Homo sapiens: one gene and its partner. The protein of the gene in region 1 interacts with the protein of each later gene in a pairwise test. Each region holds a gene or a part of one and is shown on either strand. Other genes may lie near its edges.

Region 1 (3,500 bases):
CTACCACGCCCAGCTGATTTTTTGTATTTCTAGTAGAGACGGGGTTTCACCGTGTTAGCCAGGATGGTCTCGATCTCCTGACCTCGTGATCCTCCCGCCTCAGCCTCCCAAAGTGCTGGGATTATAGGCGTGAGCCACCGCGCCCGGCCTCCTTGGATATTTGTATGAGATTTTACGAATTCATATGCATAAGGCTTTTAGTTTTTTGAAATGAAGTGAGGAATTATTTGCTCTGGTGCCTGGGTGGAACAGCAAGTCAGGAAGAACTATGGAAGGTGGAATGAGATAAACTTATCTCCTACCAGGCCTTAAGGACTAAATCTGAGCCTTCAAAAAGGCCCCAGAAACTATTTATATAAGCAGGAGGCTTTGGGGCCCAGCAACAAAGAACAACTGGGGGCGGGGAACAGAAGAAGAGCAGGTACCAGCAGAGAATTACAACAGAAAAAGACAGTACTGGGCAGAATGGCATTCTTGCCAAAGTTACCAGCAGCAATGGCAGTCATAAAGCAATACCTCAAGAGGCGTTCAGGGAGTAGACTCCAATAAGGAGGCTGGAGCAGAACTTGGCTTATTTCTGAACATGAGAGACAATTCCTGAAAACTAAATTCCTACAACATTAATACTGGTTCTCTAAGAAGCCGGGACTTTTTCAGTAAGTACTCTTCAGAGATAAATAGAAGAAAATTGAAAGATGAGGGTGCTGAGATATGTGAAGGTAGGGCTGGGCACAGTAGCTCATGCCTATAATCCCAGCACTTTGGGAGGCTGAGGTGGGAGGATCACTCAAGGCTAAGAGTTCAAGACAAGCCTAGGCAACATAGTGAGATCCATTTCTAAAAAAAAAAAAAAAAAAAAAAAAAATTAGCCAGGCACAGTGGTGTGGACCTGAGGTCTCAGATACTTGAGAAGCTGAGACTGGAGGATTGCTTGTCCCTAGGAGTTCAAGGCTGTAGCGAGCTATGACTGCGCCACTGCACACCAGCCTGAGCAATAGAGCAAGACCCTATCTCTAAAAAAAAAAGTTGATTAAAAAAAGATAACAAATATGCAGGTGGGAACTTATAAAACAGAGAACAAATACTATGGTTATTATCATCTAATTTGTATGCATAAATTGAAGAATCTGGGATAAGGCAGGATACATGAAAACCTTTTTTTTTAATTTTTATTTTTTGATTGCTCCTTCAGAAGAAAAACTATTAATAGCAATTACCTATAAAGACTGGTCTGAAGAGATCAGCGAATAGGAAGAGACTTTTGTTTTGAGACACAGTCTCGCACTGTCACCCAGGCTGGAGTGCAATGGTGCGATCTCGGCTCACTGCAACCTCCGCTTCCCAGATTCAAGCGATTCTCCTGCCTCAGCCTCCCAAGTAGCTGGGATTATAGGCACTGGCCACCACGCCCCACTAATTTTTGTATTTTTAGTAGAGACTGGGTTTCACCATGTTGGCCAGGTTAGTCTCGAATTCCTGACCTCGTAATCCGCCCACCTCAGCCTCCCAAAGTGTTGGGAGTATAGGCATGAGCCACTGCACCTGGCCTGAGACTTTTTCTTTTTTTTTTTTAAGACAGGGTTTCACTCTGGTGCCCAGGCTGGAGTGCAGTGGCATAGTCACAGCTCACTGCAGCTTCAAACTCCAAAGCTGAAGCAATCTTCCCACCTCAGCCTCTCAAGTAGCTGGGACTACAGGCAGACGCCACCAGGCCAGGCTAATTTTTGTATTTTTTGTAGAGACGGGGTTTCGCCATATTGCCCAGGCTGGTCTTGAACTCCTGAGCTCAAGTGATCCAACCACCTCATCCTCCCAAAGTGCTGGGATTATAGGCGTGAGCCACTGTGCTGGGTCTCAGTAAGTACTCTTCTGTATAATTAGAATTTGTTTCTAATCTTAATAAACATTTACTACTTTTGTAATAATGTACCACTTTTATAATAAAGAATTCATTAATAGAAATAAGCACATTTTACTGCTCGCTTCAGCAGCACATATACTAGAAATAAGCACATTTTAAAAATAGAAGATATATGGCCGGGCGCAGTGACTCATGCCTGTAATCCCAGCACTTTGGGAGGCCAAGGCAGTCGGACCTCAGGTCAGGAGTTCGAGACCAGCTTGACCAATATGGCGAAACCCCGTCTCTACTAAAAATACAAAATTAGCCAGGCGTGGTGGCTCATGCCTGTAATTCCAGCTACTCGGGAGGCCGAGGCAGGAGAATCACTTGAACCCAGGAGGCGGTGGTTGCGGTGAGCTGAGATTGCACCATTGCACTCCAGCCTGGGTAACAAGGGCAAAACTCTCTCAAAAAAAAAAAAAAAGAAATGGAGGGGCTGGGCACAGTGGCTCATGCCTGTAATCCCAGCACTTTGGGAGGCCGAGGCAGGCGGATCACCTGAGGTTGGGAGTTCAAGACCAGCCTGACCAACATGGAGAAACCCTGTCTCTACTATAAATACAAAAATTAGTCGGGCATGGTGGCGTGCACCTGTAATCCCAGCTACTTGGGAGGCTGAGGCAGGAGAATCGTTTGAACCTGGGAGGTAGAGGTTGCGGTGAGCCGAGATCACGCCATCGCACTCCAGCCTGGGCAACAAGAGCAACAAGAGCGAAACTCCATACCGCCCCCCGCCCCCCCGCCCCCAAAAAAAGATATACATGTACTATACCTAAAAGCAAACATGAAAACATTAATACTGGTTTTAATACTGGTTCTCTAAGAAGGCTTCAGGGGTTAAAGAACTAGATAACCATAAAAAATATTCCACTTGAAGAGTGATTCAGTCACATTTTATGAAGCACTATCACATAATTATCTAATTTCATTCTCAAAAACTTGACAATATAGAGAACAATAGCTAAGGCAACAGAATTTGACATTAAGTGTCTTGCCCAGATTGCACAGCTAATAAGCAGCACTGCCCAGCCTCCTAACTTTATATTCTTAAGTCTAGTACTTCCTTCACTATATCCAAAGGTAAATCCAACAACAATTCATTCCCGTTTCCAAGTCTCATATTCATGACTGTGAAATAAATAATTTTCGGTAGAGAATTTGTATTCCTGCTACCAGCAGCACTGTCCACGCACTTCCCCAGATAGCATATACTAAATACTCACGAATTTAATTAAACAGATGATCAGGAAGAATTTACTGCCAACCATTTAAAAATGGATTCCAAAAAGAAACATAAATTATTTAAAACATTATTCACTGATTACATCTTACATTCCATTGCTCCACTCAAATAGTATAAATATTCAGGAGTTGGCTAAAGTTTTACAATGTTTTACAAAGGATCACCTACCTCCCAGACTAGTACACATTTGTTGGTTTTCTTCACAGCTTCCTCATCAGACTCCTCATCATCTGGAAGAGAAATCTTGTTACAGACTTAGACTTGAGATTCAGGTTCTAAACAAATAATATTCAAGTCTACCCAAACTCTCTAAAATATTATCACCCTTTTTATGTGTTGGACCAAGTGTTCTCT
Region 2 (3,500 bases), on another chromosome or scaffold:
GTTTTTCTTTCCTCCAGAATCCCAGCCATTCTTCTCCCCAAAACTTAATCTAAAGCTAAAACTAAACTGTATTAATGGCAACCACCCAAGAATCAAATTGGCTCTATAAATCATACTGCCTAATAGAAGTCAAGATTAAAATAGGGTAGTTAAAACTGAATAAAAACTTCTTACCATTGTATTTTATTATTTCATGTTATAGTTAGAGTTTTTTTTTCTACACTTACTGTCCATCTTCACTCCAGACTGCCATACACTTGTCTCCTACTTTCCATGAATGAGTAGGTTGAGTAGAAGCAAAACTGTCTGAACTTGCAAGCGTCTCAGAAGGTTGAGTTGACAGAAGGTCTTTGGTTAGTTCTATAACTTCCTAAAAAAGAAAAACAAAAACTACAACATTATTTTTATAATTCTCATTGTCAACTTAGTTTCTGATGACAGCCTTCATACTGTACGTTAAGTACTCTACATATATTTCATTTGCAGCTCATAACACTATTAAGCAAGTACTGTGATTATCCCCATGTAGAAACTGATACAGTATTGTCTACCAGTTAAGTGGCAGAGCTGTGACTTAAGCCCATATAGTTGCCTTTCAACTTAACCACAAATACTAATGAAAATATAAGACTTGAGCTTATACCATGCATTATTTCTAAGTGCCTATTTTAGCTGAATAGATCTCTCTAAAGATGAGAAAGTCAAGTATGAGGCACTGAATTAGATACTCTTATTGTAACATATTTTATGCAACTGTACTGTTTTATAGGGCATTACTCAGCAGTATTAACTGCCAAGCAATCCCAAAACACTTTAAGCAGCTTTATTAGTAACAAAAATGTTCCTACTTATACATATCTCGACTAAAATACTACAGGCAATGTAAAAGAAACCAGTGGTCTTCCTATTCAATTATTGTAAAACTCACCCCATCTGGGTAAGCAAATTACCAGGTTAGATTTTAAATGTTCCATACCTTAATGTTAAGCACATTAGCACAGCTTCATTTAAAAGGGGGAAAAAAAGGTAACACACAAAGGCAATGCCTTTCTGTGTGGCAAATATTTTTTTCTAATTCAGGCTTACATTTATTGGCTTCATTCAAAGATGTTTGGTGTAGGGATGGCTAAAAAATTGAGAACAGTACAAGCCGACAGATTCTGCTACCTGTCTACTATATTGTTACTCTAATGAAGATCCACACTATGCATCTTATCTGATCTAAGAACTTGCATAGCTGTTCACCCATTGTTGCATTTAAAACATCATACTGTGTGTTTGGGGAGAAAAATTAACAAAGTTAAACTATGTACTGAGTTTCTTCTAGTTCCCACTGAGGTTTCATAATAGTAATTTTGATTCCAGTAGCCAAGAAAGTTAAATATTACCTCTCTCCTAAAGATTCTAAATCTTCCTGGCTATTTCTGAAAAAACTAATATTTGAGTCTTAAATCTCTTGAAGAAAGGTTAGTTTTATAAATAAATAAATAGAACACTTAGGTTTGATTTAAAAATTTAGTAGGAATAATATCTCTAAGTTTTATTAGTTGCCAACTAGCCATTAATTAGATCTTTTTAATTAGACAGTCCTTTGCAAACAAAGCAAAGAACCTTCCAAATAACTAGATCAAGTAGTACACAACAGAAGAGTAAATTATCTGGTCTTATTTTTAACCACTTTTAGGGGTAGGAATGTAATCCAGTCAGCCTGACTCAAGAGCCCACACAAATCTCTATCATTAAATACTTCCAGATCCACCTAGGGATCATTTAACTTAAGCACAGACATGAATTCTGCACTTGTAGGTTTCAGATTTAGAACTCTATTTCTTTTAGGACAGAACTGTTTTCCAAATATATTTTGTTAAAGAAATATATTTCATCAAAGAAAAGGGTCCTGAAAAGCTGTGCATATTAGTGAATTCAGAGGCCTGTGCTGAAATGACCCTTTTTTAGAAAAAATCCAGAGCATTTACTCCTAATGTCCTTTAACTTTGCCATGGTTTTACATAACCCTCCCAACAAACTATGAAGAACCTTCTAAATTTCTATTCTTCACATGTGCGTATGGACCAAAGTATTAGAAAAACTATTTTATGTATGAGGGGGTTCTTGAAGGTACATACCATTAATTACTTTTCCTCCCTCAAGTCTGAGTTCTGAAACTGCTCCTTCATCGACAGATGGGCAGCAGTTACAGTAATCGGCAATTCCAGGAAGCATCAGGTGTTGTGATCTACATATCAGCAGGTCAAATGGGGTGCACTCAAGCACTCTGCTTACTGAAGGAAGGCGTTTCGGGGATGCAGAGAGCCACTGTAATATATGAGACAAGTGACTTGACCCCTGCCTCCTTTAGAACCAGCTTATTCAGCAAAACAGCCTAATAAATTGACTATCTCTGATTATCATAGACTGCCCGGGGAGCTAGTCAGCTAGCTAGCCTGGATTTTATCACACCCACTTTTTTAAGTGAAAAAAGAAAGGCAGGACTTTAGTAGATTATTTTGCTGCCTGCTGAATAACTTTAGTCTCTATGAAAGACAGTACATGAAAGAGATAAACATGGAAACCTTACTGGCAAAATGAAGTCATTGAAAAGATGCAAAAAAAGCATTTTGTCATAAAACAAAGGGCAAACAAATTAATAACTGGGATAAGGATCTAATTCTATAGAGGAACACAAGAAATTAGAAACCATATGATGGTCAAAAAATATTAATATGAGGAAGCCACAAAATCAGTCTGAACAGACTTTTCACCAAATATAACAAGCTGAATTAAATACCCATAGCATGAGATACATCCCAGAAGGCAGAGAAGGAAAAAGGAGGGGAATGAGGGGGGGAACCCCACAGCAAAATAGAAGCTGTTAAGTGTAGTCTCAATGGAGACAACAATTACTGAGTGGAAGCTTATAGCCAAATACTTTTCAGAGTATTACCTCATCTTAAAAGATGGTTTCCGTTTTTGAGTAGTTTTCAATTCAAAATAGACCTTATCTAGGGACCAAAATGAAATTTCTAATGATAGAATAAAATGGGAAGAAACTCTGATCAAGACTGGTCAGGAAAAACATTCTGTTATTACTATCTGAAGTATTAAAACTTGCACTTCTAAATCCTTGCCATCCAGTATGGTAGTCACGTGTGGCTAATTAAGTTATACTAAAAACTCAGCTCCTAAGTAAACCTAGCTGTATTTCAAATATCCAACCAAATGTGGCTAGTGGCTATGGTACTGAATAGCAGATATAGAACATTTCCATCATCACAGAAAGTTCTACTGGACAGTGCTGTTTTAAATGGTTATAGAAAAGAGGATACTTTACAGAAAAATGATTTCCAGGTCATTATTAACTGAACCCCTGCAAGCAAGCCTTTTAGGGGCTTACTACAGTGTTTATCACAATGGTTTCCCCCTACAGTACTTTCCACTATGATGATCATGACATGGTAAGGCAGTTCTGCTCAGACTCTAATGAGGAATTATTCTAGAAA

The links. The genes of interacting proteins can lie anywhere in the genome.
Region 2: the proteins of PRPF3 (region 1) and SMNDC1 interact in binary tests that used the Homo sapiens proteins (3 or more experiments, as listed by UniProt).

Annotation. Positions count from the first base shown.
Region 1 is NC_000001.11:150,349,033-150,352,532, reverse strand, and holds part of PRPF3 (U4/U6 small nuclear ribonucleoprotein Prp3), read right to left. Parts: intron 3,377-3,500; coding exon 3,315-3,376; intron 1-3,314. UniProt on the Homo sapiens protein: Plays a role in pre-mRNA splicing as component of the U4/U6-U5 tri-snRNP complex that is involved in spliceosome assembly, and as component of the precatalytic spliceosome (spliceosome B complex).
Region 2 is NC_000010.11:110,298,421-110,301,920, forward strand, and holds part of SMNDC1 (survival of motor neuron-related-splicing factor 30), read right to left. Parts: intron 2,317-3,500; exon of another isoform or gene 2,130-2,316; coding exon of another isoform or gene 2,127-2,129; intron 371-2,126; coding exon 228-370; intron 1-227. UniProt on the Homo sapiens protein: Involved in spliceosome assembly.